Regions from separate parts of the Homo sapiens genome. Here region 2 is linked to region 1. Evidence: fine-mapped QTL for protein levels in blood plasma. A gene starts in region 1. The other region holds a variant in brackets. All regions are shown on one strand. Distances are from middle to middle.

Region 1 (17,013 bases):
ATATATTTTTAGCAGCATTTCTACATTCATGATATTTAGGTACTATTATATATAATTTAGGTACTATTATATAATGTATCCTTGTCATATGCCATTTATTGACAGGGATACATTCTAAGAAATGCATTGTTAGGCGATCTAATCATTGTGCACACATTATAAGTGTACTCACGCAAACTTAGATGCCATAGCCTACCACACCTTTAGGCTATATGGTATAGGCTGTTGCATCTAGGCTACAAATCTGTATAACATGTTCCTGAATACTGTAGGCAATTGTTAGAAAATGGTAACTGTATGTGTATGTAAACAGAGAAAAGGTACAGTGAAAATACTATATTATAATTGTATAAGACCACCATTATTGATTGAAGCATCATTATGTATTGTATGACTGTATCATAAATCACAGTAAATAAATAAGTAAAATATAACAATGACTTAAAGTTTCCTGTTACCTGACACTAATAACATTTCAGACATAATCAAAGTTTTAGAGGCACTCTACTGCTTCAGTTCTTTTTTCTTTCTGATAACCGCTAATCCTTTTCTCTTTAATAAATGCAGGAGAGCATCTGGAGAAAAACAAAGTGCTAGTATGATTTTTTTTATTTTCTGTTTTGAAAACATCCTCTGGGAAGAAAAAGTGAATAAGGTGCAAAGCTGATTGGGCGGTTCGTTCTAAGCTGCAATTTAATAAATTAATTGCATCATCCCTGGTTGTACCCATTCTCCCTCTTGCCTAGCTCAGTCAATGTTCTTCTAAGTCTAATGCAAAAGCCATCTATTTTTTCCTTGATTTTATTTGAATATTAGTTTGTCTTTAGAAACCAAACACCAAATTGAAATAAATTTTGGTCTCTGATAGTTTTCAAACTTGTTCTACAAACAGTTTATATTATTGCAAAGCAAGTACTATAGTTGCTACAAAACTGTATTTGTGTTTTGTGTAATTATGAAATGTGATGTTTCATTGTTTATGTTAAACAGTTGCTATAACATCTAAATGGTTGTAATATCTTCCCATGTCACTTAACTTGATTTAATACAAAATTTATTATATGTTGATATTTATATTTTATGCTGAGTAGGTCTTGTTATATAATAATATGGTATGAATTAAAATCTTTAATTTTTCGATAATGATATCTGAGTTATCAACTTGCAAATAATGTAATTGGTAACAATCAAAGCAATTCTTGTAAGCATGCATTCATTGCAAAAATGACAATATAATGCTAACTCATATGTATTGTTGCAGAGTGTCATATGACATATTATTTAATGTGTACTTTAATATAAAAATATGCAGATGTTCATATACTGTTAGTGTATTGTAGGCTAATGTTTTTATATTTAATTGCAGTACTTTATTTTTTAAATAAGCATCACTTTGCCCTTTTTATAATCTGGTATTATCTATTCTAACATGCTACTCTGTAGTTTTGCCATTAAAAGACTTTAAAAATTTTGATATGTTTATCATGTAATTGAGCAATCGAAAGAGAAATAAATGAAAATAGAATAAAAATATTGAGTCTATATCTCAAAATTTTTATTAATGATTAGGATATTCAACAAAACATTATCGTTTTTCTTTTTTTTAATTTTATTATTATTATACTTTAAGTTTTAGGGTACATGTGCACAACGTGCAGGTTTGATCGTTTTTCTTTTAATAAATTCTGGTGCAATTGGATACTGTCTCACATGATTCTGAGAGAACATAGTAGCATAAACATTATCATAAAAATGGGGCACATTTTCACAAATACAGCTGTGTATCTGAATTTAGATCAATTTGCTTATCAAAATAGTATTTAATATTGGAAATAAAGACAGGAGTTTTTGTTTGGAATTCAGACCATTCTAGTTTTTGAGGAATTGAGTTTTTGAGGAATTTGAGTTTTTGAGGAACTGAGTTTTTGTTTGGAATTAAGAAAATTTACTGGCAATTTTTGAAAATGCTAAACTGTTATAACAATAACTTTCAAATAAAAAAGGTGACAAATCTTTTTTTGTATTTTTAATTCAATTTTGAAAGTACTATTAATATTCCCTAGCTGATTTTAACAAAAAATACTAAATGTTATACTATAAGATGTGAGTGTGATAAAATAATTTGTATAAAGAGCTATTTTTTGGGATACTTGAATATCAACCAGATTTTCAAAATAAGGGACAAGCCAAGAATTTTTAAAAGATGTTCAAGCAAATATTCAAAATATTTTCCCTGTGTATAATTTCCCTATCTTTTAAAAAGTTACAATTAAATAAATATTTATTTCTACTTGGAAATAAACCCTCTTAAAATGGTAGAGAAAGAGCCATCTAGATAATATTAATATGATCTAGAACAAGCTCTCTTAAATGTATTTGAAGAAATTGGAACAACGACGTCTTTATATCAAACTTAAAAAGCTTGTTTTGTTGCAGACTAAGTGAAGTGGGGAATTGAGGAAGTCTGATTATAAATAGACTACATCACTGTCTTTCAGGGATTCTTCAGCTATGCTTTAGGCATGTATACATATAGAAGACACTACATTAGATATAAGAAACTTAAGATGTTTTATCTGTCCTCAATTAGGAAGAACATTTGCAAACTTCATTGTGTGAATAATTTGAACATTTATTAGAGAGATTTCTTGAGTCTTCTCTGAAAATTAAATCTCCTCTTAGGTTGCTATCTATTCAATTACAATTCTCTTAACATCTGGGACCGTCTAATTTTGGTAAGAATGAGCAGATGCTGGCAAGAAACCATCGAAATGAAGATAATATTCAATGTAAATATATATTATACTTATCAAGAAATGACTCGAAGAAGGAACCAAATTTATAGATAAGATGTGACTTGTTTAGCTATTAGTAGCTTATGTTTTATAAAAATGAAATATGGAATACATCCCAAACATATTTTTACAATTAAAAAACTAGGACAATACAAACAAACAACAACAACAAAAAATTAGGAGAACAAAACAGAACTTTGATAACCCAATTAGAAATTTATTTGGCATCCAAAAGACTACTTTATTTTATATCCAGAGAAAATTCTGAAGATTTTTATTCAAATGTTAAAGTCACACTTTAAAAGCTCACGCTTATCCTTAAACAAAGTAACTACTTATATAAGTAAACTGTCATTGTATTTATTGTAACTATGAGATAGTTTATATTAAGGAAGGCATTACACAGACTAGTGACAGGAGCTCCTAATTGAGTTTATTATCATGAAATATATTCATAAAAATGTAGAAGACATACTCATAAAATAAAAATATATAATAAATAGAAATCATAAACAATGAAATCACATTTCAGTTTACTTTTAGTCATTCATAGATTTTATAATCCTTAATATTTAATTCCCTGGTTAAAGTGGAACTGATGTTATCAAAATAATAGTTTTACAAGATTATAGGATGAGCAGAAAGTACATTTGCTTACTATTTCTATAATAGTAAAATAATAGCAAATGTAAAATATTTTGCTACAATTTAAACAAACATATAAAAAGTGAACACAAAGGGCAAAGGGGACACGCTCATAAATCACTGTAAATCAAATTAGAAAACAGGTTTTGTTTTTATTTACATAAAATAAACAGACCTCTCATTTGCCAGTTGTTACTGTTAAAGTTTTAGGTGACAAAATGTTGATTGAGAAAAGTATTTTGTTCAGGAAAAAGTAAGTTAACTACTAACTTTATCCCATTTAAAAAGAAAAAAAAAGGAAGACTAATCAAAGATTACTTTTACAGAGAGATTCAATAAACAATGCATTTAAGGGTAAGCCAGTATGAAATGTTTTTTCTTAGGAAACTCACTAAGAATATATATCACAGTGATTCCACACGTGCTATGGTCCTTTATACAGAGTTGAATAAATTCATTATTTTCTCAGCAGTTAAATAAACAAAGTCTGCGTTCCCTGAATAATAGGAAGATTTGATGCATGTGCCTGCTGGCTCACTTCCTCTGTCCCATTTGCAAGCTTCAGTAACTGTTCCCCACAGAGCACCAAAGGGACACAACAAACACATGAAGAGATCACTCTCATCCCACAGAATGAGCTTTACAGTAACTTGGATCTCTACACGAAGGTGTAAATTCAGAGCAACTTACCCGATTCTCTGCAACAAAGATGGCAAAGTTTGCAAGGAGTGAAAATCATGTAATACTTCGGGGAAATGCAGGATGCAGCTGCTGCTCCAGCCTGTAAATTGGACTGCACTGACATTCAGTGTTACTGAATGTAACAATCAACTGTTACTGACAAAGCTCGCGAGAGTTGGCAGCAGCAACTTGAAATCTGTTCAGAGGCTAATGGTATAAATGCAATAGTGATTCATTTACAGAAGTATTACAGGATTCATGCTTTACAATTGCAGGTAGTCTTCTAAGAATGAAGAAAAAAAGCATAGAAGATTCTTTAACTAAAATAATCTGAAATGTAACAGAAAATGCATGTTTCTTTTAACTCTAAACTTTAAAAAAATTTTCCTTTTTTTAAGAATATACATATTTCCTATGCTTGTCTTAAGATTTAAAGACGTATACATCATTCTAAAGTAGTGCTATTATTGAAATCCATTATAGCTTCAATCTGTGCTAATTATATAGTTAGAGAAGATAGTAATATAGAAAATAAGAAACACAATGCTCTAGATATAAGCTATGCAAATCAAAAACTTAGTTCTATTAACTGAATGGATGTCTCTGATATGTATCTCCTTTCAACCCCCACACTTCAACACTTATTTAAGTCATACAAATTTCAGCATTGGTAATTTCCTATTCAGAAGACCCTGCAGGCAGTCATACATGATGAGAAGCCACAATTTTCTGGTCAAGACAGGAAAAATAAAATGAATAACCTTCACCAAACTCTATAAAAGAGACACATTTGTCAACTTGCAGTGCACATGCTCTGGAGAATATATTTATGTCTTTGGCGCTTATCTTTCTTGAAATGATGTTCAGGAAAATAATTTTTTAAAAAACCTTTGATAAACTCCTTAATCCCTATCTTCTCAATGCAATATATTCTTAATCTTCTGTAAGTGATAGCTTTCACTTTTGAATCTCTTACTTGTGGGCTTTCTATGGACTAAACAGAAGGCATGTATTAATATTTGCAGGTGAGCACTTTTTTGCCTTTTAATAGAGTGTTAAATTTTCAAACAAGCAAATATAATTAGCATTTGTTGTAATTCTACCTTATGCCAGTCATTATAATTGACAATTTATATTAAATATTTTATATTATTTCAGCAAATATGAGAGTTAATATTATTAACCACCTCATCAGATGAGAAAGCTAAGGTTTCTACAAATCAGAAGCTTACTATATTTCTTACCACTAGTAGCTGTTGGAAAACAGAATTTTAATCTGTATTATTCTGTTATTTTATGTCAACTGCTTCCAAGAGAATAACCATTTTGGTCTTTTAAAATTATCTTTTCTGTGAAAATTGCTACTTAGGCAGTGTTAATTCAATGATAAATATCATGATCACAATAATTTATAATGTATTTAGAATATAGTTTATGTAATAACAAGTTAGTTACACAAAAGGTACAGAATACATAATCTATCTGAAAAGGAGAAAAAGGAGGTGGAGCACAGTGGTTCATGACTGTAATCCCAACATTTTAGGAGGCCTAAGTGGGCGGATTGCTTCAGTCTGGGAGTTCAAGACAAGTCTGGACAACATAGCAAAACTCAATTTCTGCAAGAAAATGGGTCAGACATGGTGGTGCAAGCCTACATTCCCAGTTACTTGGGAGGTAGCTGAGGTAAGAGTATCACCTGAGCCTAGGAGGTCGAGGCTGCAAGCCACGATTGTGCCACTGCACTTCATCGTGGGTGACAGAGTGAGATCCTGTCTCAAAAAAAAATTAATCAATAAATCAATAAAAGCAGGAAAAGGCTTTTTAAATGGAAGTATATTGACAAATTTGCAATGGTTTTTATAGTGATGGCATTTCTGTTTAAAATATAGTAAATCTGATGTTCCACATGAGAGTTCATGGGTTCAATATACATGATTTTTAAAAATCCAAATGTCAAAATTCTTCTCTCCAACCCAAGTCCACTGCATTGTTTCCTGTGCTAGCATAAGGTCAGCCTATCAAACGCGGCAATTATTAAGGAATATTTTGTGACGTTAGTGAATTCAGCAAAGCATTTTACATGCTTCCTGCATCTACTCACTGCTAGGTAAAATATGTCACATATATACACATATTTCATTTTCATCTTTAAACAGGAAGCCAAACAATAAAATAATTGGTTTCAAGCAGATCTTTATCTTTAACGCATGTTTAAACTGGCTAACTAGCAACATCAACTGATTACACAAGTTGGCAATTTTTCTTCTTCTCAATGTCTTTACTTCAAAGAACCACCTTCTGTTACTGTCCCTGTAGTTCTTTTCCTCGCATGATTTCACAGCTATGCCACATTAGTTCATTCATTATTTTAGTGCACCTCTAAAGCATTTATTCTTCCTGTCTTGAGAGTTTCTTCCTTGTGGCTCAACTTACAGCAGCTGCTTTGCTTCTGTGGTGTCATCATTTTCTCACACTCATCCAGCGGAAGGATGTAGGTCACACACAGTGAGCTTGTTTCAGGGTTAGTAGGGAAGCACTATTCCATTACATCACAGCATGGATGGTTAATGATCCTGCTGTTAAATGTTGAGTATGCCTTGTAAGCGACACTGATGAAATACCACAAGACACTTGACACGGCATTAACACTGCGCACATTTTGCAACCATATATGCTGAAGCTTGGGCAGGACAATCATTATGGTTTTGGCTCTATGATCACTTTCAGTTAGCCAGTCACAGTGGTTTTTTGCTTTTAAGGTCCCATTGTAACTCAGTTACCACTGTTTTCTAGATAGCAGCATTCAGTAAGATTTGAGATGGTGTGAAAAACATTAATCCTGTATTATACATTAGTTTTCCTTAGGCATACTGATGCCAAAAAAGTGCTCTAAACTTATATTAATTTTATTCATTTTTTTTACAATAGCACTGCATTCTCTGAAATGAATATGGATAACAAAGAAAAGTATATATAAGTATAGATAGATAGATAGATAGATAGATAGATAGATAGATAGATAGATAGATAGATTTTTTTTTTTTTTTCCTGAGATGGAGTCTCACTCTGTCGCCCAGGCTGGAGTGCAGTGGCAGGATCTCGGCTCACTGCAACCTCTGCCTCCTGGGTTCAAGCAATTTTCCTGCCTCAGCCTCCTGAGTAGCTGGGATTACAGGCACCCACCACCAAATCTGGCTAATTTTTGTATTTTTAGTAGACACAGGATTTCACTATGTTGGCCAGGCTGGTCTCGAATTCCTGACCTCAGGTGCTCCACCAACCTCGGCCTCCCAAAGTGCTGGGATTATAGGTGTGAGCTACTGCATCCAGCCCAGAAAAGTATATTTCTACATTTTACATATCACAGAGAATGAAAAGACCATTTTGTATATTCCAATCAATTTTTTAAAATATGTGTATGTGGTTATAGTTACATAGATAAATATAGTGGTAGTCAAATGGCTTATCATCATTCTTCTTGCTTTTTATCTTATGATATTAATTTCCTATTAAAATATTTTGATTACTGTGTGATATATTATCATATGGGCATATTATGGTTCATTGTATCTCTTGTTACTTATATGATGATAATAATAATTTTAGGTAATAAATATTATTTGAAAGCACTATTCTATCCACTTTGAATACATGAATTCATTTAAAACTCATGACTACCTTTAAAATAAGCACTATTATTAACCTTATTTTACATTTGAGAAAATATAGCCACAAAGAGTTTAAGTAACTTGCTCCAAATCATACAGATACCGAGGTTAGCTTCTGACTTTTTTTATGTATTATTACAATAGGCATTTTGTATATCGATATTTGAGTGCATCTTTTAATTATTTTCTTAATTTATTTTCCCAGAATTGGAATAACCAAATACGACATGGACAAAGTACATATACATATATGTGTGTGTGTATATATACATGTGTGTATGTATATATATTTATATGTATATTCAATCTTCTGAAATCCTACACAGACTGTTGAATAGAGATAACTTTCCAACAATTCTGGCAAAAAAGAGAAATGTTCTTATAATCAGAACTAACCTGAACATGTCTCTGGAGCCCAGGTACTAGACCCTCATAGCTGGATGTGGCAGGTGTTTGAAGGTGGATATCTCCAGAGATATTAGAAGTAGGTCCAGAGCCACAGGTAATAAAATTCTTTAGTGATGTTGTAGCAACTAATATGGAAGGCCTTGCAGGAAGTGACATCTGTAAGGGATAACACATAGATATTTTGGGGTTAAGGGAGAGTGAGTGATGGGAGGTCTGTGGTGCCTTTTACATGAAGATACAGATAGTTTGGTTAAAGGAGTTTTGGAAAGAGACAACAACAATTTGGTGAGACACTAGAATATTAGACTCTAAGAACAGAAAGAAAATCAAGAAAAAGCAAGAGCTTCTAAGGAAATGTGGTGCCAAGTGGATTTTCATGGAATTGGCAAAGCCAGCAGAATCAAAGTAAGAAAACAAATTCTGAACTAAATTGTTCAGGGCTTGAGCAAAAAAGGAGAAACTCATTGTTTTAAAACATAAAAAAAGAGAGAAAAACAGCAAGCTTCTTTGTTTATCACCTAATTTACTGAATTGGCTTAAATTTACTCTTCCCAAACCCTTGACTATCTTTGGAGTCTCACTCTCAGAAAAATTGCAAAGTAACACATTATCAAATTCATCAAAGTGCTATTTAAACATCCAGATTTCTAGGCCACATCCCTGGGCTTTGGTTTCAGTAGACTTGAGGACAGCGTTATACTACTGTCCTCTGTGAAGCTGATAGAGGGAGTTCACAAACTACACACTAAGAGGCAAAGTCCTGGAGCTTGGATACTAAGGACATTTTTGTGCTACCATATATATATATATGCTTTTTCTTTTTTTTAATTGCTTATTCTCATGCACAACTGTACCTTTTGCTTCAAGCTAATTTGGAAATACATCATACATAGTCTTTGGTAGCCTACTTTCATATAACCTATCTTAAGTTTTTCCAAAATAATGCTATCGAATATTTTTTTAACTTCATTTATATGCCTATGTATTAATTATTTGTATAAGTACAATATAATTTATCTAACTTGCTTTTATTGTATATGAAGGCTATTTTAAATTTTTCCTGGAAATAGTAACATAAAAATGGACTTAGTAATTATAAATATTTTTAAATATTTCTTATTTTCTATGGAATAATTGCTTAAATCAGAATTCTTCAAAAGGTTATCTATGCTTTTATGGCTAAGACATATCAACCAACTACCTTCACAAAACATCAGCAATTTATACTCTCACCAGCTGTCTAGGAAAGTGTATGTTGTTCTCATGCTCAAAAACGCAATTTATTATTACATATCTTTTGTCATTTCATTTGATAAAAATGTACTATTTTTAGTTTATTTGCTTATAACTGTTACCACCCATATTTCAGGTGTTTAAAAGTAACTTTTTATTTCTGTACAATTTTAAATTTATGGAAATTTTCAAATTAGTGCAGACAACTTCTATATAATATTTACTCAGATTCACCATGTGTTAATATTTTAAGCCATTTTCAGTTATGTCTTCCTTTATACATGAGATAAAATATGTGCATTTACAAATTATTTTTTCTGAATTATTTCAGTTATTTGTAGTACCAATGTCCTTTATCCCTTAACACTCTGGTAAGATCTACGAACATTCCCTTTTCTCTGGCTGTAAATATAATAAGTGAATTCAATCAACAATCTGGTAATAGAATACAAGACTATTTGTGAGGAAAAGCCCTGTTATTATGGAACAACTCTAATTTAAAGAAGAAAGACAACTAATATATGTAGAAGGAATAACACAGCAGAAAAAAATTTTCATACCTTGATGAATATACTCATTCAGTTAAGAATTAACAATTGGTGTTAAGATCACTAGATGTATGATTGAAGGAAAACTGGATAGGTGATATTCTTGAGAAACCACACATATTTCAATCCAAATTTTATAACTAAAGCAAAGGGTAAATTTTAATGTCACAAATAGCAGAATCAATAAAATGTTAGGTAAACAATATCACCAAGTCTATCTAAAAATTTTAATTTGAGTCTTTTATTATCACATTGAAGATATGAATTCAACTTTATATTTATATGAAATAAAGAAAATAAATGAAAGAAACAAATTGTATCTCAATGGAGCACCCAGCCAATTCCTGAAAGTGGAACATTCTGGCTTGGTCATTTCAACAAAACAATGAAAGTAAAGTTCTATGAAAGCCTGGGCAAAATGCAAGAGACATAATCACATGTAGTATGTGGTTCATGACCAGAAATGGGTTTTTTGGGGGATAAATTTTGGAAATTTAAATAATTTGGTGGTACTAGCTTAGAAAAAATTTACTGAGGTGAAAATTCTTGAAGAAGTGGCCTGCAGAACATTATGAAAAATATAATCCCATTGTGGTATGCGTGTATACAGACAGACAGACAGACAGACACACGCACACACACACACACAGATTTGGAAGAATAGAAATTAAATGACTTTATGCTGAGACGATTTGGCAGAGATATTTATACAAAATTATGGAAACAATTTATTTTTATTTTGCCTTATATTTAAGAAAATCAGGAAGAGAAGGAGCTGCCAAATTTTCATTATTGAAATGATATAAACTTCATGTCAAAGCAAGTTAAGAATAATAAAAAGCCAGCACTTTGGGAGGCCGAGGCGGGCAGATTACGAGGTCAGGAGATCGAGACCATCCTGGCTAACACAGTGAAACCCCGTCTCTACTAAAAATACAAAAAATTAGCCGGGCATGGTGGCGGGTGCCTGTAGTCCCAGCTGCTCTGGAGGCTGAGGCAGGAGAATGACGTGGACCTGGAAGGCGAAGCTTGCAGTGAGCCGAGATCGCACCACTGCACTCCTGCCTGGACGACAGAGCGAGACTCCGTCTCAAAAACAAACAAACAAAAAATAGAATAAAAAGAAAAGAGAAGTTGGAGTTTGAAGAAACTGAGGCAATGAGATTTTAAGGGGAAATGGAGTAAACAAATTGAGAAGAAGACTAAAGATAACAAATTAAAGAAAAAGGAGCAATTTGGGAAACCACTCTAAAGAGTAGAAGTTTTGGGGAGGTAGAAGCATAATAAAGACTTCTAGAATGATATTTGTGGTGAAGTGTAAATCTCTCCTGAGAATCTTCAAACTTGTTAGGAGAAACCAACACTGTTTTTTAAAAGTTCTGGAGCAGATGTGTATGTGAGTTTTTGTGTGTTTCTGTGTATCTGTGTGTGTGTGTGTGTGTGTGTGTACATGTACTACAGAGACAGTGGATACAAAAGTATCCAGAGTTGGGCTTCAAGGGAAAAAATGGTACAGTCTCATTTAATAAAGTGGCTGAATATTAAATATGTTAATTAAGAAAATAAAATTGTTATGCTATTATGTTTCTGAGGTAGAAAATTGTACTACTTTATATGATTTCTTCATTTCTGTAATTTGAAAAGTTTCCTAATTTGCATATAATATGTTCAAGTAAAAATAAACTTCTTATAAAATAAATTTGATTATCATAAGATCACATTTTGGAGCCATGTAGTCATTTCTGAGATGAGAGTTAAAGAAGAGCATCCAGTGGCACCCTCCACAGCGGGGTCTCACCTTCAAAACCAGGGTCATCTGGTGCTGTCTTCTCAGACTTTTTTCTCTACCTCAGTGTTTGTCTTCAGTCTTTTTTCCCTTTATCATCTTTGCAATATTCCCAGATATCTTTCTGTTTTTTTTTTTTTTTGTAACTGTATTTTATTACTTCAGAATAGCTTTGTAAATGCCAAAATTTACATCTTATTTCTTGGGGGGAGTCAAAAGCTACAATGCAGAAATTGTGAAGTGCTGAGATTCACCTTTGTTTTGGAACTGGATCACCAATGTAATGCCAAATAATCTGATATTTAGCTAAACACTGTATTGCTAGTATATGACTGCAATTACTAAATATAATTAGGCAAATAATAATTAATCTTGATATGTCTTAGTACAACCTGTATCTTAACATTGTTTTTCAGTCTGCTCATATTTGGTGATTATATTCACAGCATGATTTTACCATAAAAAAGAGATTTACTCAGGGTGTATTTCTAAATACATAGAAGCTTATTTTGCTGGCCATGAAAAAACAACAGTATAATTTACTGCCTCCAAGTAATTGTTTTATTTCTGACTTCCTCCTTAAACCCAATTAATGGTACTTTAGCCCTTTTCTGTATCATCATTGTTCTGAAGTCAGATTTTTGGCTCCGTTTAAATGATCAACGTGACATAAAACATATAGATTAGTGTTACAAATCCCCAGAAACATAACTGGAAGGGACAACTTATTTGCAGGCCTCACAAAGTATTCTTCTGCAAATAGACAACCATATCTAACTGATTTTTATGGACAAATTGTTAAAACTATGTCTACATTAACTTTGTAAATTTAAATCAGTAGTCACAGAAAAGGCATGAAAAGCTCTGTGATGATTGTGTCAACTTAACTGAGTAAATGAATGCCCTAATAACTGGGAAAACTTTTTTTTTCTTGGTCTGTCCAGAAGAGATCAGCATTTGAATCAGTAGACTGAGTAGCTCTCACCAGTATGGGCAAGTGTCATCTAATCCCTTGAGGCCTCACCTAGAGAACAAGAAGGGAGAGAAAGAATGAATTTGCTCTCTCTTCTTGAGCTGGGACATCCATCTTCTGCCCATCCTCTGCTCACCTTCTGCTCCTAGTTCTTGATTCTTGGACATATGTCATCCCCACTCAATTGTCGAGCCTTCGACCTTGGACTGGAAATTCCAACACTGATCAGTTCTTCTGGATCTCTGGCCTTCAGATTTGGACTGAATTACACCAACAGCTTTCCTGGCTGTCTAGCATGCAGATAGCATATTGTGGGAATTAGCCTCCATAACCGTGAAAACCAGTTTCCATAACAAATCACATCTTCTCCATCTCTATATATCCTATTAGTCCTCTTTCTCTGGAGAACCGTGACTAATACGAGATCTCAAGCGAGAATATGCATTTCTGTCTTGCCTATTTAATTAAGTTTTGGGGAAAAAAATCACATGGAGTAATGCACAGAAATCTTGTTATGAGATTGCCAAAAGTTCCATTTATCACCTACTCCATCTCTTATCCTATAGATATTTTATGATTTTCACAACTTTGTAAAACACAGAAGTATACATATTGAAAACCATTTATAAACTATTTCTGGATTTAAAAAGAAGAATCAAATTGATATTACAAAATAATGTATAACAAAAGCACTACATATAAACCCATTGTAACTTGCAACTGAATAGATATTATTATTAAAAGAAAATTGATAGATGTAAATGCTTGTTGGAATAGAAACAAAATTGTAAACAGTGAAGAATCCCATGCAAGAGCTAAAGAAAAGAATGATAAAGAAAACCAAGAGACAATATAACATTAGAAATTGTAGTAATGAGAACAGAAATTAATAAAATAGAAGATGGGGGGAACGACAATGGGAGCAGCAAAAGCAGAACCGAGTTCTTTGAAATATTCCTATCAAAAATCTGGGAATAATTATAACAAAATATAAGCTCTGTATGATAAATATTTTACGTTTTTATTAAATACATCAACAGATGACCTCTTCTACCCCAAATAGAAAACTATGTCTTGTTCACACATGGGAAATCTCAGTCCTGTAAGATGTTCAGTCTCTATTTGTTACACAATTCCAAATAAATTCCCTTCAAAATTTTTAACGAACTTGAAAACTCACTTGAAAAGTTATGAAAAGTAATGAGCTCAAAATAGCCAATATAGTTTTAGAGAAGAAAAGTAAATAGAAATTAATTTGTCTCATTAGATATATTTAATAATGCACTTTGATGATTAAAATTACATAGCATTTGGATATATTGCATTTGGATAGTGATAACCTTGTAGAAGAGAATAGAGATTCTGTATCCTCAGTTGTATATAAGGATATATTATATGGTATATTAGAGGGATATTAGAACATGACCTATGTAATAAGTGAAATGAAACAAGTGTTCATCATATAGAAAGCATTTTGATTAAATTTCTACTTTAACTATAAACCATACACAAAAATATTTCTGCATGAATTTGAGACCTATGTATGAAAAACAAAATGTTAAAATTAAGAAAACCATGAGACTACCTCAGTGGAATTCAGGTAAAGGCAATTTTTCTAAATAAGACACAAAAGGCCATTATAGAGAAACATTTAATTGGAATAATTAAAATTCTAAAATTACCAAGAAAAGCTTAAAAAGTTAAAAAATACACAAAGACAGAAAGATGCATATAACCAATAAAGAACTATACTCAGAATATAGAAAGAACTAGAAATTAAAAATAAGAAGACAACTCAAAGAAAAAAATGATAAAAAGATCTGAACAAGCAATTCACGAAATGGAAAGCCTAGTGGCCAATCAACATGAAAAAATCTCAATTTTTCTAATCACTGATGATATGAAAATTAAAAAACAATTAGATGCCAATTCACACAAACAGAAGTTGTCCAAATTGTATGTCTGCTATTGCTCAGTATTAGCCCAGAAGGGAACTAGGAATGTGAAAACATGTTACTGAATTTTATGTTGGTATAAATTTTTAAAAATATTATTGAATATATCAACCCTAAAATCAAAATTCTAGGCATATACACTAATGAAACTCATGCACCTATACACAAAAGTCATGCAAAAAGTCTAGATTTTTATAATTTTTTAATAATATAAAGATACTAGGAAGGACCAGATTATGACTAGACAAATTTTTATGGTCCTAGAGTAGAATAGCATGTAATAATCAAGAATAAAGATAGGCCGGGCTTGGTGGCTCACGCCTGTAATCCCAGCACTTTGGGAGACCGAGGCGGGCGGATCATGAGGTCAGGAGATCGAGACCATCCTGGCTAACATGGTGAAACCCTGTCTCTACTAAAAATACAAAAAAATTAGCCGGGCGTGGTGGCGGGCGCCTGTAGTCCCAGCTACTCCGGAGGCTGAGGCAGGAGAATGGCGTGAACCCCGGAGGCGGAGCTTGCAGTGAGCCGAGATCACGCCACTGCACTCCAACCTGGGCGACAGAGCGAGACTCGGTCTCAAAAAAAAAAGAATAAACATCAATACCAAAACGTTGAGAGAAAACATCGACATGTGGAATGGCATGATGTGTTTTTAATACATTTTAAGTACATACTAATTTTTATTTTGTTTACCAAGGTATATGCATTTGCTTGGATGAATATAATATTTGGATAGTTGCTATATATGGAGAGGTAATACATTTGTAATATATCTATACTATTTATTGAACCTGTTGACTCTTGACTCCTCACCGTAGCCCTTAGAAAATTTTGAATTTTAAGTTTATTTGTATGTTCATTATTAGTTTTGTCTTTTTCCCCATAGTTATGGATTTTAAAATGAGAAGAAGGACCATGTCCAGTTCATAATCCACTAGTGCTCAGCCCTAACAGTGCAACTCTGGTGTTCATTAAATAATTATTGAATGAATAAATCCCCATATTGTATACTCCCAACCACATTTGATATTATCTTTTTCTAATAATTGTATACTTATTATTTAAAAATTCTCTTTGAACGTTCATTTATATGATTTATATATTCTGAAAAATTATTCCATTCCATTTCAGTTAAATCTTAAAGTATTTTTCTTCTATTATAGTTTTTTTTTTTAAATAATAGTATGTGATTATTTTCCCTCTCTAGTTTGAAATAGAGAATTTAATAATTATAAATTACTAAAGTTACTAAAAGGTATAAATACCTTTATATGCTTAATTTAATCATTATTCTCCCTTCTTTATATACTTTCATGCTATAAAATATGAATTTGTTGACTCCATTTTGTGTTCTATTACTGTATATTTTCTTTTTTATATATCACACTATATTTGGATCTTCATGTTTTATGTTGAGGTTTTCTTTTATTTTTTTGTAACCAAATAATATGAACTTTTTTCCTTCAGCCTTTAATTTCCAGGGTACGTGCGCAGTATGTCCATGTTTGTTACATAGGTAAACGTGTGCCATAGTGGTTTGCGGCACAGATCAACTCATCACCTAGGTATTAAGCCCAGCACCCATTAACTATTCTTCCAGATGCTCCCCCTTCCCCTGCTCCCGCAAAAGGCCCCAGTGTGTGTTGTTCCCCCACAATGTGTTCATGTTCATGTGTTCTCATTGCTCAGCTCCCACTTATAAGTGAGACCATGCAATTTGATTTTCTGTTCCTGCATTAGTTTGCTAAGAATAATGGTGTCCAGTTCCATTTATGTCCCTACAAATGATGTGATCTCATTCCTTTTTATGGCTGCATAGTGCTCCATGGTATATATATACCACATTTTCTTTATCCAGTCTATTATTGATGGGCATTTGGGTTGATTCTATGTCTTTGCTACTGTGAATAGTGTTGCAATGAACATACACATGCATGTATCTTTATAATAGAATAATTCATATTCTTTTGGGTATAAACACAGTAATGGGATTGGTGGGTCGAATGGTATTTCTGCCTCTAGATCTTTGAGGAATCACCACACTGTCTTCCACAATGGTTGAACTAATTTAAACTTCCACCAACAGTGTAAGTATTCCTTTTTCTCTGCAATTTCGCCAACATCTGTTGTTTCTTGACTTTGGGCCTTTTTATTTTTCCAGATGAAATGTCATTTTTTTAAAAAAAAAAAAAACCTAATAATATATCCATCCATTAGAATCTGGCTTATACAAAAGCAACAGAAAACCAACTCATTAGCTTGAGACAGCATGGGTTTTATTTTTCTTACATAAGGAATCTGGAGGTACATGGCCATGA
Region 2 (17,013 bases), 120 kb before region 1:
CCCTTTGTATTCTACATATTAGTTATCTGTTACTGTATAAGAAATTACCCCCAAATCTGGCATCTTGAATAACAGTTATTAGCTCATAGTTTCTGTGGGTCAGGAATATAGGAGTCACCTAGCTGGATGGTTGGGGTCAGGAATATAGGAGTCACCTAGCTGGGTGGTTGGGGTCAGGAATATAGGAGTCACCTAGCTGGGTGGTTGGGGACAACATCTCTCATGAATTTATAGACAAACCATGAACTGGGACTGCAGTCTTATCTGAAAATCCAAATGGGAGTAGATGTGCTTCCAAGCTCACTCACGTGATCATTGGCAGGATTACGTTTCTCAGTGGCTGTTGGCAGAAGACTTAAGTTTCTTGTCACATGAGCCTCTCTGCAGGCTTCCATAGCGTACATTTGTAATGGCAGCTGGCTTTCACTAGAGCAAGTCATCCTAGAGAGAGGATATACATAGACAGAAGCTGGAGTATTTTTATAACTTAATCTTAGAAGTGATATACCATTGTTTTTTATTGCATTCTATTGGTAACAATTTACTATAAATTGTATTCAAATATTGTTACAGAATGTATTAAACTAGTATTGTCAGGGATGGCATATACAAGTGTGAATAACAGAAAACAAAGATCATCCAATGCCATTCTAGAGACAGGCTAGCATATTGCTCTTATCCAGCTTTCTTTTATACCCATAATAATTATCATTTTCTCATAAGTCAAATATACATTGGTTTGTTTACTGCCTTCCTTTTACTACAATATGGGTAAACATCAGGGTAGAAACCTTGTCTGTTTTGTTTGTCACTAATGTTTGAAGCAACACATGGCTTACGGTAAATGCTCAAGAAATATCTATTGAATGACTGGAAGCCTGAAGGATAGGTATATCTTTATAGTACATATCTGGGGAGTCGGTAGGTAGCAGAAATTTAAAATTTTTATTTAGTTGAGTTCACATTTTGATAATTTTACCCAACTATTTCATCCAAAAGCTTAATTTTTTTCCAAAAAAATTATATCTGTGGCATGAGTAAGTCATTTCAGAAGGCTTTGTTCTTTTGAAGGGAAGGCAAAAAAAGAGATGGAGATATCTATGTAATTCCTCAATCTGGGTCTGCAAATAAAAAAAAAATAAGACATACCATATGTCATATTGGAAAGACATCAATGCATACACACACATACACACTTATAATTTTGTTATATATAAACGTATTTCTTAAAAATCTATGGTATATTTGTTAGCTCCAGTTCAGAAGCTATTTTTTGAGAAGGCAGAAGAAAATCATCTTCATGTTTATTGGACCATGCATTTTCAGCCAAAGAGCAATTATACTTCTTAATATCACTAAGCACATTATAATGCTGAAAAGAAATATTGGTGGAAATTGTAATTTAAATTGCAGCAAAAGCTATGAAAAGTCAGCATTATTAAAAACTGCTGAAAATTCAAAATCTAAATAGGTGACTAAACAACTAGCTGAAGAAAAAAATAGAATCATGGGCTAGATCAAGAAGACACTGAATGTTAATAATTTTATTTTTCAAAGAATAGTCTCTGAAGTTATTCCAAGCATTTCTGAATAATTAAATATAAATTGGCATCTATTGAGAAGAATCTTGTATCCAGAACTGATAAAGAGTGGATATTCTCCTGATGGATAGACTGGCCTGTATCTATTATTTTAGTTCAATGTCTATGTTGTTTTGCTTTTTAAAATGTTTTAAATGTCATATCTGATATTATCTATTAGTTTATGTTTAATTGGGGAGAAGTTAATTTGAGCATGTTTTGCTTTTCTCTCATGCATTTGAACTTTTTCTTGCATATTTGGTCCACTTTTATTGTCAAGGACTCAAGCACTATCACTATTTATTTTTCTTAAATTTTAGTTCTTCAGTTTCTTAGTTAAGGCCCTTCTTACTTCCAAATAACACATGGCCTCATCTGAGATGACCTGTTAAGAGTCAACTCTCAGTAAATATTTACTACAAGCTTGAATAACCCAACCTCCCTGCCCCCACTGCCTCATTTTAATTTATTCCTACCTCCTGTGTCTCTGGACAGTGGTAGGATGACTTTCCTCATCCTGATTCTACTTTTACTCAACAATGTGTTATAAATGAAGGCATAGCACTCAGTCTTCCTTGTATTCAACCTTTTTTCTTAATCAAATTTACTGATTAAAATCAAATTATTTCCCTTAGTAAAACACTTTTGAATGGTTCCCATTTGTAATTTGAAAGATATACAGAGGTTATACCTTTGAAGTCAAAGATATTATGAAAATTTCCTGCCCACCTTTTTCATGTACCTATGACACAGGATCCTTAGGATGTTGCCTTGCCAGCCAAAACCTCTGTGGTGTTGGTGCCTTCTGCCTGAGTACTGCTTGGACCACTGGGCTGGATCCTACCACTCAGCCCAGCAGGCTGCACTCAGTTCACACTATCGGCCTGGATTTCATGCCTGCCAAGGACAAGCCTGGCACAGAGCAAGCACGGGGGTCCCGCCACTGTGTACAGTCAGGAGTGCCAGCTGCAGCAGGGTGGGCAGCTCCCAGAGCCGGAACAGGTGCTGGTTCCATCAGACGCTACAGCTGGACCAGGCATACCATAAGCAGCTTCTACTGTGGGCACCAGAGAATGCGGCGGTGCCTCAAAACTTAGCGATATCAGGAACTGCAGAGCCCCAAGGATGGTGTTGCAGCCCTGGCTCAAGGAACCCTAAGTCTGGACTCCCCAGAGGGCTGCAACTAGCTTCTTCCTTCTTGTACCTGCAATGTGGTGAGCAGGAGGTGTGTTTCAGCCCTGTTTGTGTTACAGCTCTTTCTCTTTCAGCCCTGCTCTTTGGCAGGTCCCAAGTTCTTTTCCTGCATCCAGGAAGAATGAGGTACATGGACAACTGGAGGGTGAGCAAAGCAAAGAGGAGCTTCATTGAGCAACAGAATAGCACTCAGGAGATGTGAAGTGGGTAGCTCCTTTCCACAAGCAGGTCATCCCGACGAGTGTTCAACTATCAGTGGAGAGGAGAACCACACTGGGCAGCTCCTTCCTAAAGCTGGTAGTCTTGACATCTCTGTGAGTCTGGTTGAATCCAGGGTTTTTATGGGCTTCAGAAGGAAGGAAGTGCATGCTGATTGGTCCATCGACAGCCATGGGTGGGCCCATATAAGTCACCATAAATTATCACTCCAGGCTGCTGACTCCACAGGGAACTGACAGCCCAGGCCCTATTCTTTACCTGGCTTGAAGGTTAGGCTTAACAGGAGATCCACTCTTTTTCACAAAGGAACCTGTCTGCCTCCAGCTGCCATCAATCATGTTGTCCATGCTGTTGAGGAGGTGCCTACAGGCCTGTGCTGAGTCAGCCTCAGCTCCTACTCAGCCTCTCTCCTGTGCTCCACACCGAAAGTCCGGATGGGGCTGAGGCAGCAGGGGGCTGGTGTGCCAGCACTGCCTCAAGTGCATGCACACCTGTCCGGGTTGTGACATCATCCAGGAGGGGCCTCAACTTTGGTCTGAAATTGGATCGGGCACCGAAAGTGAGGAGAGGCCAGGCAGTGGGAGTAGGAACTTCTGAGCCTGCGGGGGCAGCTGGATTCCCAGGCCTCTGAGAGTGCAGGGATGCATGGATCCACAGCCACAGCTGGGTGGCTGCAGCCACACCTGGGTGGGGGTCTGGGGTCTCCAGCCCTGCCAGCTCAGAAGGGGACAGGGCCCCCTCCTGTTCCCAGCTCTTGCCGGCTCCATGGAGTGTGCAACCCCAGCAATTGCTTCCCCAATGCAGATGGTGTCTTCGCAGCAGCCACTGCAGGTGGGCTGCGCTGCCATCAATCCTCCCTCTGAAGAGGTACAGGAAACTGCCATTAGGATAGGGATGATGACCACGCTTAACGGCTTCATGCTGCTAGGAGGCACTGTTTTGGGGAAAACGCAGTCAGATCTTTCTCAGAGGCCTATCCAAGGGTCCTTGGTAAAAGGGAGCCATCATCTGAGGCTCCAGTTGCATGACCACTTGGTGTCTGATGGCCTCTAGGCAAGAAGAAACAAATTTTACAAGGAGGTTAATTATGCGAAGGAAAAAATCTAGTGCCAAAGATAACAGAAATAAGAAGTAAAATAGACTAATCATTCAGAAAACAATATTGTGGCTAGAGCTGTTTCACCCTGGTAAAAGAAATTAAATCTTGTATGGGGGCAGTTAAAGTTTAAAAGAGAAATAACTGTTTAGGGGGGTAGATAATCCCTTGAGTTTACTTTCCCGAAAAAGAAACCTTTGGGTTATCGGCACCCCATTTACCCCCCATCTCTTGGCAGGATTTACAGGATAATTGCCCAGAATTAGAATGTTCATCCAGATTTTTACTTTACCTATCCCTTTTTTTTGGTCTGAGCTGCAGTCAGAGATAGTTGGCTAGTTCACAGGAATAAGCAGGGTTAATCTAAAATGCAGAGAAAAACTTCAAAACAACCAATGAGAACCTATCCAAGTCCTATAACTGATTATAAACTATCCTTTGAAGAGAATAAATACAAGACAACAATTGCCTGTGGATGACAAAATGTCTTAGGTTAGTTCACAGTCAAAAACACAATTGACAAGGAAATTTGGTTATTTCTGTGGCTTACGGTAACTTAACATAATAATGCTATTTATGATTGCTAGCATATACTCAGACATTTGAATTTTAGAAATCCCATACAATTTTGGAACATACATTATCGTTTACTAAAATATAACTTAAACAAGATTAAACCTTATTTTTATTTGGAAAATCCCATGTAACTAAACATGTCAAATAATCCTATTTACCTCTTGTTTGAATGCTCCAGGGGCCCTCTGTAGCATCCCAAAATTAGGGGTCAGAAAAGATAATTATGAAGCTGAAATTTGATTTGGGGAAGCCTATCAAATACATTAAAGGTTTAAAACACTTGATATTATAAAAAGAATTCCAGATTACCATAAGTAATTTATTTAGCCAAAATGATGATTCAACATTTTTTTTTTTTTTTTTTTTTTTTGAGACGGAGTCTTGCTCTGTGGCCCAGGCTGGAATGCAGTTGCGCGATCCGTCTCACTGCAAGCTCCGCCTCCCAGGTTCACGCCATTCTCGTGCTTCAGCTTCCCAAGTAGCTGGGACTACAGGCACCTGCCACTACGCCCGGTTAATTTTTTGTATTTTTTAGTAGAGACAGGGTTTCACCGTGTTAGCCAGGATGGTCTTGATCTTCTGACCTTGTGATCCGCCCACCTAGGCCTCCCAAAGCTGGGATTACAGGCGTGAGCCACCGTGCCCAGCCGCTTCAACATTTTTTTGGAAAAGCAAAAACCTTTACTCATTACTAGGGCAGACTCAGCTTTCCAAACGATCTGTCTCTTGTCTTTTCCTTCTTTTTTCAGTAGTTTATTCACAAAACAAACTAAAATTTTTCAATATCCTTAACATTACATGAAAATCTTGTTCAAGAGAGATAGACAAATTTCACCCTTTATTTGTCTTTTAATGTCAATCCCAATTTTTTAATGAAAACTTATAGAAAAATCTATCCAATTTTAATCAGTTTGACCATGAGGTGAGATTCTTACAAACCTTTTATAACTCTTAACTAATTTTTGTTAAAGAGTATATCAGTGCCTTAAGAAACACTTGTGCTTTTATTCCAATGCTCAATTTATGGAAAAATCGAATAATACCCTTTTGAATTTAGTCAGTATGTTCACACACAGATTTTATTTTACAATATTAAGTTTTACAAACCTTCCCAACTCATTTAAACCTTTAGCTTTATCTTAATTAAAAATAATTATTTAACCCTCTACAGTAAGAAAAAATTTACATGTCTTCCTATAATCTTTTATTAAAAACACATTTTACTTACCTTAAACACCTTGCATGTAAATCTATTTTCAGTAGTCTCAATACATGTTAAATGGTAACTCTTAGCAATTTTTTAAATTTTGGTGTAAAACATGATAAGTTATTTTAATTATGTACTAGGTGCAGATAAGGCCTAACTCTTTCCAACATAGTCGGGGTGTGGTTAACTTCATATGTCCCCAGGCCTTACCAAGCTGAAAAGAAGGCAAGTCAAACAATTTTCAAAAGCCGAAGAAGCATTTCATGACCTTAAAGCCTTTAGCAACCCTAGTATCTGACCTGCATAATGTAGACCATATGTCTACTTTTTTTTTTTTTTTTTTTTTGAGGCAGAGTCTCACTCTGTTGCCCAGGCTGGAGTGCAGTGGCATGATCTTGGCTCACTGCAAGCTCCACCTCCCAGGTTCACACCATTCTCCTGCTTCAGCCTCCTAAGTAGCTGGGACTACAGGCACCCACAACCACGCCCGGCTACTTTTTTTTTTTTTTTTTTTTTTTTTTTTGCATATTAGTAGAGACGGGGTTTCACCGTGTTAGCCAGGATGGTCTCAGTCTCCTGACCTCGTGATCTGCCCGCCTCGGCCTCCCAAAGTGCTGGCATTACAGGAGTGAGCCACTGCAACTAGCCCATATGTCTACACTTTGAAGACATTTTTATTTTACCAATAATCTTTAAAGCTGTTTTTATTTCTCAAAGATTAAAGTCATGTGAACAAAAAGGCATTACAGCTTTATTTTTCTTTAAAAATATTTTATGCAAATGCTTATTTTTTCCTTAAACCAGTCAATTAAAGCTCTTTTTTTTTATATAAGCACCACACATAGAACACATACATAACTACAGAGAAAGAAGATCCAGTAGTTGTTAGATTTTCATTTGCCCATCTAATTTTATTTACTGGCCTCAGGGTGGAGCCCTTTAAGAAACAGGGCTATGAAACCATGCAGTATCTAGGGCCTAATAAGCAGGCATAGTTGGAAGACAAAAACAGATTTTGAGATCTATCTGCCTCTAATTCCTGGGGTTCCATGAGAAAAACAGGTTTTTGTTTGTTTGTTTGTTTTTGTTTTTGTTTTTCTTTTTTTACAAAAATGGGGTCAGTGGCATCTCTTCTGTTCTTCCCAAGGAGTTCCAAACCATCAAAAGTTGTCTTAGGGCCTCTTATGTGTGCATTAGGAGTGGCAAGATGAAATGGAGAAAAATAATTAAGTTGGCTAAAAAGGAAAAAAAAATCCTTTTTCCAGAAAAACTAGATCCATTGAGAGAAAAGACATAAAGGTCTTTTATATATGCCTGATATGCCTGTAGCTTGGATATCCACTTTTAGTTAAGCTGACTTTTAACCATATAAATCCTTTTTATTTATTTATTTGAGATGGAGTCCTTTTCTGTTGCCCAGGCTGTAGTGCAGTGGCATGATCTCAGCTCATTACAACCTCCGCCTTCCAAGTTTAAGCAGTTCTCTGCCTCAGCCTCCTGAGTAGCTAAGATTACAAGCACCCACCACCATGCTCAACTAATTTTTGTATTTTTAGTAAAGATGGGGTTTCACCATCTTGGCCAGGCTGCTCTTGAACTGACGTCGTGATCCACCCACCTTGTCCTCCCAAAGTGCTGGAATTATAGGCGTGAGCCACCGCACCCGGCCAGAAATCCTTTTTTAAAAAGTCCTCTTAAATGTCTTATTAACCAGCCTTAGCCATGCCAAATGGCCAATATGGCTGGCTTTTGAGCCTTAACAAAATTAACCTCACAGGTAAAACTGATAAGCCTTACTGTAAAAGTTGTCCCTCTTCAAGAGATTGCTCAGTTAGATTTGTAATATCTTCTCAGTTTGGGGAATGCATCTGAGGGGAGTGTCCTGTGGTGTAGAGATGCAATTACCCATCCTCAAAGAGAAGACAGAAGAGGAAAAAAGGAAGAAAAAACCTTTTTTTTTTTCTTTTTCCAGAGTCTGAGGGTCAAAGGAGTTCCAGAGATTCGGGATGCACTTGAGAAGAGTGCAGGCTAAAGATGATTGGTTCCCCTTCTGGAAGAGAGGACAGAGGGGGAAAAGGCATTCTTTCCTCTCTCCAGAGTCTGAGGGTCAAGGGGGTCCCAGGGATTCAGGAAGCACTCGAAAAGAGTGCAGGCTGAAATGGTTGATTACCCATCTGGAAAGAGGGGGGAAATGGTTTCCATTTGTTCCTTTCTCTTTCAAGCCAATACACAGGGTACATGAGGGAGAGAAAAAAAAGACATCACCTTCTTTATTTTGACATTATATCCCTAAGTCCCGGCAACCTTTGCACATGCCACTTTCACCCATGTAGCAGGGAGGCCTAGTGGATAAGAATATTTGCACTTACCTTTATGCTGCCCTATTCTCCCATTGTCAGTCACCTTTGAGTTCCCTAGACCTTATCTATGCCATGGATGCAACATGACCTCCATCCAGAAGTGGAAGGCCCTAATGGTAGGAATTAGTCATGCTCACCTGCACTGTGCCTCCTGACTTGCACTTTCATCTGCCTCTGGATACCTCAGGTTTAGCTTTCCCTTTGTACGGACTCATTAAATTAAGTCCCAGGTAGCCCTTACCAAATTGCAGCCAGTAATTGGTGGGGCAGCCGAGGCCACTCTTTCATTTCTTCCCTATCATAAGCAGAATGCTAAAGTAAAACTGTGAAACGAGGTCCCCTTCAAACCAAGGAAAGAAAGGGAGTCCTGGGAATTTAGGACTGGGCCTAATAAGATGTCTCTCAAAAGGAAAAAAAAAAAAATCTCTTGCGTAGAAAAGCTCCCCCAATGCACTATGTTGACTGCTTACATGGTGGAGGAAAAAGAAAAAAAAAATAAAAAAGAAAAAACTGAAGTGCAGGGAAGGGGAAGGTGCCCAGGGGAAAGCCTCTTTCCCTATGGAAATGGCTTCCTTCAACAGGGGAAAGAAAAGTCTCAGTTGTTACATTCTCCTTGCTTCTAACAATAGACAGATACCACATTACATT[C/G]TTCTGATTTACATTCCTGATCACTAAGCCAAGCGCTTATTATTTTTTCTTTTTTCTTTCTGTCTTTTTTGTTTTCTTTTTTTTTTTTTTTTTTTTGAGATGGAGTCTCACTCTATTGCCCAGGCTGGAGTGCAGTTGTGCTATCTTGGCTCACTGCAACCTCCACCTCCCAGGTTCAAGCGATTCTTGTGCATCAGCCTCCCAAATAGCTGGGACTGCAGGTGCCTGCCACCATTCCCTGCTCATTTTTTGTATTTTTAGTAGACATGGGGTTTCACCATGTTGGCCAGACTGGTCTCGAACTCCTAACCTCAGGTGATCTGCCCACCTCGGCCTCCCAAAGTTCTGAGATTACAGGTGTGAGCCACCATGGCGGGCTTCCAAGTGCTTATTCTAGCCAGTAATATTTTCTCTGAGGTACCCTTAACATTGTATATAAAAAAGAGAATAGTAGCCATTATAGTCAGAGAAGAAAGAAAGGAAAGGAAAGGAAAGAAAGAAAGGCAGGCAGGAAGGAAGGAAGGAAGGGAGAGAAAGAAAGAGAGAGAGAAAGAAAGAGAGAATGAGACAAAAAGTGTGATAGGAAAGACTGAGGGCCCTAGTGCTGACACCCTAATGGGCAGTTGGGGATGGGAGTTAGTCCAGGGGCCTTTGGATAACACTAAGGTGTAGCCTCAGTCAGATATCTGCAGTTGCCCCAGGACCTCCTTCCAGTCTCAAGTGACAGCTAAATTTTTGTGAAGGGAAACCGGATTGGCAAAAGGCCAACATTCCCAAGACCCAAGAGTGACAAGTGATTGACAGTGTACCCCCAGCAAGCCTGTCCTCTGTGTCTTAAGTCCAGCAACCACACTTGTTGCTTTTAGTTGGCTGAACAGAGGCCCATGTTTTTCTTTCATTCTGGCTAGTGTGTAGTTTATTGACTCCAAAAAAAAAAAAAAAGGATGGAAAGCAGCAAGTCCTCTTTTACTCACTCTCCTGAAGATCCCAGAAAAGCACCTCCAAAAATGTCAGGGGATCCTTGGGGTGTCACTTTGCCAACAAGAAACCTTGGTAGCCAGTGGTGCCTTCTGCTTGAGTGTTGCTCAGGCCCTCTGGGCTTGTTCCACCCACTTGGCCCAGTAGGCTGCACTCAGTTTACGCTACCGGACCGGATCCCTTGCCTGCCAAGGGTGAGCCAGGAGTGAAGCAGTTAGGGATGTGTGAGCAAGGGTGGGGTCTGGTCACTGCACACAGCCAGGCATGCTGGCTGTAGCAGGGCAGGCAGCTCCAGGCCCCTGCTCCATGCAAGGCTGTGGCTGGACCACGAGTACCACAATTGGCTTCCACTTCTAGCACCGGGAAACACAGTGGTACCCAGAAGCTTGGAAATGCCAGGAACCACAGAGCCTCAAAGAGGGTGTTGCAGCCCTGGCTAGGGAAGACCCTAGGTCTAGGATCCCCAAAAGCTGCAGTTCTTCTCTCCTTCTTGACACCTGTAACATGGTGAGGTGGGGCATGTTTCAGCCCCGTTTGTGTTACAACTCTTTCAGTCCTGCTATTCAGCAAGTCCCAAATTCTTGTCCCGTGTCCAGGAAGAATGAGGTCTGTGAACAACTGGAGGGGAAGCAAGGCAGTAGAGGAGCTTCATTGAGCAACAGAACAGCTCTTAGGATACCTGAAGTAGCTGACTCCTTTCCATAGGCAGGTCGTCCAGATAAGTGTCCAGTTCTCAGCAGAGAGGAGACTTGTAGTGAGTAGCTCCTTTCCTTAGGCAGGTCATCCTAACGAGTGTCCAGTTCTCAGCAGAGAGAAGACCTGCTGCAGTTGATAGCTCCTTCCCACAGCTGGTAGTCCTAACGTCTCTGTGAGTGTAGCTGATTCCAGGGTTTTTATGGGCTTCAGAAGGGAGGAAGTGCATGCTGATTAGTCCATGGGTGGCCATGGGCAAGCCTGGAAAAAGCACCGTAAGTTCTCACTCTGAGCCATGGACTCCACCTGGAACTGACAGCCTGGACCCCAGATTTCAAGCCATCCCTGGCTTGAAGGTCTGGCTTTACCGGGGACCTGCCCCTTTTCTTGTCTGCCTCCTGTCATCATTAATCATGTTGTCCAGGCACCCAGGCTGTTTGTGCTGAGGGGTGCATTCAGGCCTACACTGAGCTTCCCTCAGGGCCCCCTTGGCCTTCCTCCCATGTTCATTGGTGATCAAAGTCCAGAGGGGGCTGAGGTGGGAGGGGGCTGGCATTTCAGCACTGCCCCAAGTGCAAGCACACCTTGCCAGGTTGCAACAGCACCCACGCTTGGCCTCAACTTGGCTCCAAAATCAGAGTAGGCACTGGGGGTGGGGAGAGGCCAGGCGTGGGGAGCAGGCACTTCCAAGCCCGTGAGTGAAGGGGGCTTCACAGTCTTCAAGAGCCCAAGGATGTCCAGGTCCACCAGGGCAACTGGGCAGCTGCAGCTGCACCCGGGAGGGAAGGGCTCCTGCCCCACCAACTAGGAAGGGAGCAGAGATTCCACCTGTTTCTGACTCCTGCCAGATCCATGGAGCATGCTGCCAGCTGTGCCTCCCCTGCTGCAGCCGGCATCTTTGCAGCAGTTGATCCAGGTGGGCTGCTGCTGCCAGTCAATTACACTTTTGGATAAATCCTCAATGTAGGCTCCTCCCAGTAAATTATATTCACCATGTAAGACTTCCGTGATTTTACTTACCATTAACTTCACTTTCATGCATTAATTGATTCATTTGGTCAACAAAATATTATTGACATCTAACAAATGAAGCTGTGCTGTATGCTGCATATACAGATATTGCTGATAAAGAGTTAAGTGAAGGAAGTACTTACAGGTTACTAAGGACTGAAGGTGGTGTTTTTCAAAAAAAATCTCAAACCAAAAGCAAAATTATTAAAGAAGTAATATGCTATAATCCCAGAAGATGGATGTAGAAAGAAGAAATCTGAGTGGAATAAAGGACCTTCTACCACCAATATCAGTCAATCCAATAATCAGCAAATATTCTTTTAAGAACTTTCTGTTTTCAAGACTCAATATATAAAACTATCTCTGTTTTTGTGGAACTTACAGCTCTTTAACGGTTGAGGCAGACATGAATAAAATAATCACAAACATAACATTACAGCAGAGTAAGATCTGTGAAAATAAGTCTCACAGTGCCATGAGATAAGGGAAAGACATACTAGGATCAGGGAAGATTTCCTGAAGAAATTAAACTTTGATACAAAGAAATAGAAAATAAACAGATAAATGAAGAGAAAATGAATCTAAGACAGAGGAAGGAACATTTAAAAGGTCCAGTGGTAAAGGCTGAAGTTAACTTGTGTGACTGAAAGAAGACCAGTGTGGTAGAACACATAAACTAATAGTAATATAGAATAATGCCGGATTTTATTAAATTCTTTTATTAAAAACTTAAGCATTTTAAGTAAGGATCTTGGGCTAATTAGAATCTTTTTTAACCAATTGCCATGGTAGAAATGGACAAGAGTTGATAAAGAGGGACAAGTTAGTAGATGTGCCCTGCCGTTGCCCCCATAGATGATTGACATTGCTTGCTCTAGGGAGGAGAATGTGGAATTAAAGAGGGTGGATCCTAGAGATCTGTAAAAGGTAGTATCACAAGAATTTGCTGATGGATATGGAAGATGAGAGAATATGATGTGTTAAAAATGATATATAGTATTCTATTTTGAGAAAGTGGATATAAGCTAATGTTATTTAGAGCTAAGTACCAATTAAAAAGAATCAGGATTGCTTGAAGCGTGTAGGAGTTTCATTTTGGATATGTATGGTAAAAGTGATATTCCTTGAATTATGAAACATTTCTTACTCCTGGGGTGAAAGTGGTAGTAGTACTCAAGTAAGAGACAACAGGAAATTGGTAGTAGCTTGGAATAGATGATAAATGCCTATTTCTTAACAAGGAGGGGTTTTACCGGAGATAAGTTGAAGGATGGTGGCAAGCATTTCACAAAGTAATATTTGGGAATGTTGGATTTATGTAGCAAGAAGCATAGTGGTATAGAGTTTTCTATTTTCTGGTGCAATAGCATGAATTTGGAAGTGTAAAAGAAATATGAACGGTTGAGACCGCTAAAAAAATCAGGATTTTTTTATCTGAATGTGGAATACTTGGTCTGTGTTTCAACTGTGAAAGATAGTAGGGCAATGTTAAGGTCTAAGATTTGGCTATGAATGTAAATAGGCTGCATCTATTATTTTACACTGGTTCTGTCTTTATCTAGCTTTATGACTTTACACAAGTGACAAATTCTTAGCACTATATTTTCTGCTTGTAAAATGGCGATAACAACAATAGCTGTCTTAACAAACGTGTGAATTTTAAATTAATTGTTATGTAAAGTGGGTAGCAAACTGCCAGGAACAGTGATTTCTCCATAATGCTGTTTTTATTATGTACAATACAATTATTATATATAAAACTTTTTATCCCTAGCACTTAGCAGAATAAACTACTAAAATCATTTATAATAGATATTTATTTTGTAGATCTTTTTGGGGAGATTAGAAAATTTTAATACTGTACTATTACCAGCCATTTCTCAATTGGACTAGAGTTCTAATAATTATAAACTTAAAAATGATCATCTACTTGTCAGAATCATTTATTTAGGATATTTATATATGTACACACTATAGTCTCCTCACACTGCAATTTATTCTCATTTTTATTGTAATTCTTATTAAAAGTTAAAATGAAAAAATAATTCCTTTAGTAGTTTATTTAGGTTATCATTTTAAGACACTGCTTGCAGTCACCTGTGGGATATACACTGACATTTACACTCAGATTAGTATCCCACCTAAAACAATGCATTTATAGTTTCTAATACAGCAAATCTGGTGAAGGCTCACTTGACATTTTTAGTACTAAACACTTCTCTTGTGAGAGCACAAGTAAGCTGACACTGAGTAGCCTCTCAACATACGAACAGGGTGTTCTATAATTCAAATAGAAAGAATACATATCATGGTACATAACTTACCAAATCTAAATTATCTGCCACATATATTGTCTCATTTAATCATCACAAGAAACCTGTATGCTTGGCATTAAGTCAAAGAAACAAATAGATATAAGGCATTTCTCGAGTATCATGTGGCTCCATATTAGTGGGCACGGCATTCGTATCTAGCTGTCTAATCTGGTTTCAACATTTGACGTAATGGTCTCTAGATTTGACTTTATTTTTAAGAATTTGAACTGTCTTTGGTGGAGATGAGGTGTAATGCATTCAAGAGAAAATTTGTTTCAATTTATGAAAAAATCTCCAAGTAGCATTCAAATAACATCATATGTTCTTCAAGAAAATGAATGTTCTGTGTTGGAAACACAAAGAATACATATCCTTAGACTTCAGAGTTAGTGCAGTAGAAATTAGAGAAGTTGAAAATGATATTTTTAGAAGTGCACTTGTGACAGATCAGGATTCCTCAAGACTAGAAAGTGGATGTCATAACACACTTATTGGAAAGACATTAAGTGATGACAAGTATGAGAACAGAAAATTGGTTAAGTTAACATAAATTAAGGAGGAAATTATATTAAAAACCCCAAGTACAGAGGATAAATGCTTACACAGACATGTCCCATGCAAAATGAAAAAAATAATTCCTTTAGTAGTTTACTTTGTTTACCATTTTAAGACACTACTTGCAGTCACCTGTGGGATATACACTGACATTTACACTCAGATTAGTATCCCACCTAAAACTATGCATTTATAGATTCTAATATAGCAAATCTGGTGAAGGCTCAAAATAAGGAAGCATATTTAGATAAGAGTAGTGACCTTTAAATGAAATATATTACTATGACTGTATGTGGTTGTCTCATAACAATGGTTGTTCAGTTACCTAGTAGGTAAGGATTAGTTATATAGTCTATCATTGTTACATCATCAACCACCCAAAACTCATTATCTTAGCAAACAAATTATTTATTCACATGAAATCTGTGGATTCCCAGAGAGTCTACTTATACAGGCTATGCTTGGATAGTGGTTCTGCTTCAAGTTGTGGGTCTGGTTGGGCTTAACTGGAACGGGTCTACTTTAGGTCATTCTGGGGAGGTAGTAGCTATCTAGTCATGATGGTTAATTTTATGTGTCAACCACTTCTGGGCCATGGGATGCACAACTATTTGGTCAAACATTGTGAGTGTGTCTGTGAGGGTATTTTTGGAGAACACTAACATTTAAATGCATAAACCAATTACAGTGGAGTACCCTCCTTAACATGTGTGGGTCTCATCCAATTAGTTGAAGGCCTGATTAGAACATGAAGGCTGATTCTCTCACAAGTAAGAGGGAACTCCTCTTGCCTGCCCGCCTTGAGCTGACAATTGTCTTTTTCTACCATTGAACTAAAATGGAAACATTGATTCTTCTTTGGTCTCGGGCCTGCTGGCTTTCAGACTGGAAAGACATGATCAACTCTCCTGGATCTCCAGCTTGCCAACTGCAGATCTTGGGAATTCTCACCCTCCATAACCATGTAAGCCAATTCCTTATAATAAATCTCTATTTCTCACTTTGTCTTTCTCTTTTTCTGTTTCTCTATTCATCTCTCTCTCTCTCTCCACACATGCACACACACACACACACACACACACAGAGAGAGAGAGAGAGAGAGAGAGAGAGGGACAGGGAGAGAGAGAGAGAGAGAGAGAGCGAGAGACTCTTTAGTTTCTGTTTCTCTGGAGAACCCAGAATCGCTTCTCAAGATGATGGTAGGAAGATAAGAAAGAATAAAAGAAACATATGAGTTTTATTAAGCCATAAGCACACTGTTACTTCCATCTGCATTGAATTCACCAGAACAATCACATGTTCAAGTCCAAAGTCAAGGGACAAGGAAAGACATGATAAGTATTATATGGCCAAGGCAAGGGTGAAGATTTGAGGTAATTTATTTATTATCACGATAGAGCAAACATTTTTCTATGAATATTCTCATGAGCTTTGATTTAATGTTTTTTTTTTAATTAGCTTCTTTGTTAATCAAGGCGATAAACCTGTGGAATATGCTTTCTTTATATAAAATGTAAGGATCAGAAGCACAATTTAGAAAATCACACTGTAAAAGTCATTTATCTTCAAAATTTAGAATTCACCCTTAAAATCGCATTGATAAAAACATTACTGCAAAATTAAGAGACAGTAGATGCATTGGAGAAGTAGAACACCTTAAACTTGGGTTTTAGTTTTAGAAGATATTGTCAACATGCCATTTGACTATAGCTACTGGTAGTATTTTCAGATTCTAGTTAAACCTGGAAAATAAAATTTTTCATTGGCCTTCAATTAAATCTCAAAACATACATGAAAAACACTTAAATATGAAAGATATAGACAATGAATGAGATATAAAAATTTCAAAAGTTTTATTTATACTGTCAAAGAAAGTCAAAACATGGCATGCAAAAGCAAGGATTAGACTATCAGAAAAAATGGGTATTTAGAGAACAAGAATGAGATTTTAGGAGCTTAAATTATTATGGCAGAAATATAAAATTCAATGTAAGACTTGAAAAATAATTTGAGCAAAGCTTCTGGAAAATGGCAAATCAACAACAACAAAAAGAGATGGAAAACAGAAACTTAGAACATTTAAAGCATTGACCCAGGAAATCCAATATAATCTACCAAGATTTCCAGAAGGGAAGAGCCTAGAAAACAGAAAGAAAGCCATTATTAAATGATTAACATTTAATACAAGAATATTTCTGCCTCTTTTCCCTAAAATTTTATTTTGGCCTTGTGAGACACTGGGCAGGGAACTCATCCATGCCATGGCAGCCTTCTCACTTACCAAAACTGTGAGTTAATAAATGGCTGCTGCTTAAAGCTGCTAAATTCATAGTAACTTGTTTATAGAAATAGAAAAGTAATACACTATCTAAATTAATGCTTATAATTATTGTAGTTTTGTTCTGAGACAACACTTAAATGTTAAGAACTTTTAATCACATAAAATATAATTTATATTTAAATAAATTCAATGATATGTTTAATTAAGGAGTTGTAATAATGGCACCATATTTACTTTTAAATGAAAGCATAATCAACGCATGAGCAGTTTGAAAATTTGCCTGTGTTTAAAGAGGTTTTG

Which allele goes with the higher level. Alleles are on the strand shown, and positions count from the first base shown. The strength of an association depends on the size of the effect and on how common the allele is.
In carriers of allele G in region 2, the plasma level of the protein whose gene starts at base 4,240 in region 1 tends to be lower than with C alone (weak association).

Evidence for each region. PIP is the posterior inclusion probability: the model's chance that the variant is causal. Protein levels are from antibody-based Olink assays in UK Biobank. Linkage for the fine-mapping came from a reference panel and not from the study's own genotypes, which makes the PIPs less certain.
Region 2: its variant is fine-mapped to the plasma level of the BCHE protein (UK Biobank, PIP above 0.99).

What each region holds. Positions count from the first base shown.
Region 1 is chr3:165,833,184-165,850,196 of GRCh38, forward strand. BCHE (butyrylcholinesterase) reads right to left here and starts at 4,240. Exons shown (of 4, transcript NM_000055.4): 1 at 4,131-4,240. RefSeq lists an enhancer at 4,058-4,352.
Region 2 is chr3:165,709,979-165,726,991 of GRCh38, forward strand. No RefSeq gene overlaps it. Among named protein-coding and RNA genes, the nearest start is that of BCHE, 120 kb to the right of the region's middle. RefSeq lists enhancers at 3,359-3,858, 10,750-11,250, 11,251-11,751. The variant C/G (reference allele first, on the strand shown) is at 8,881.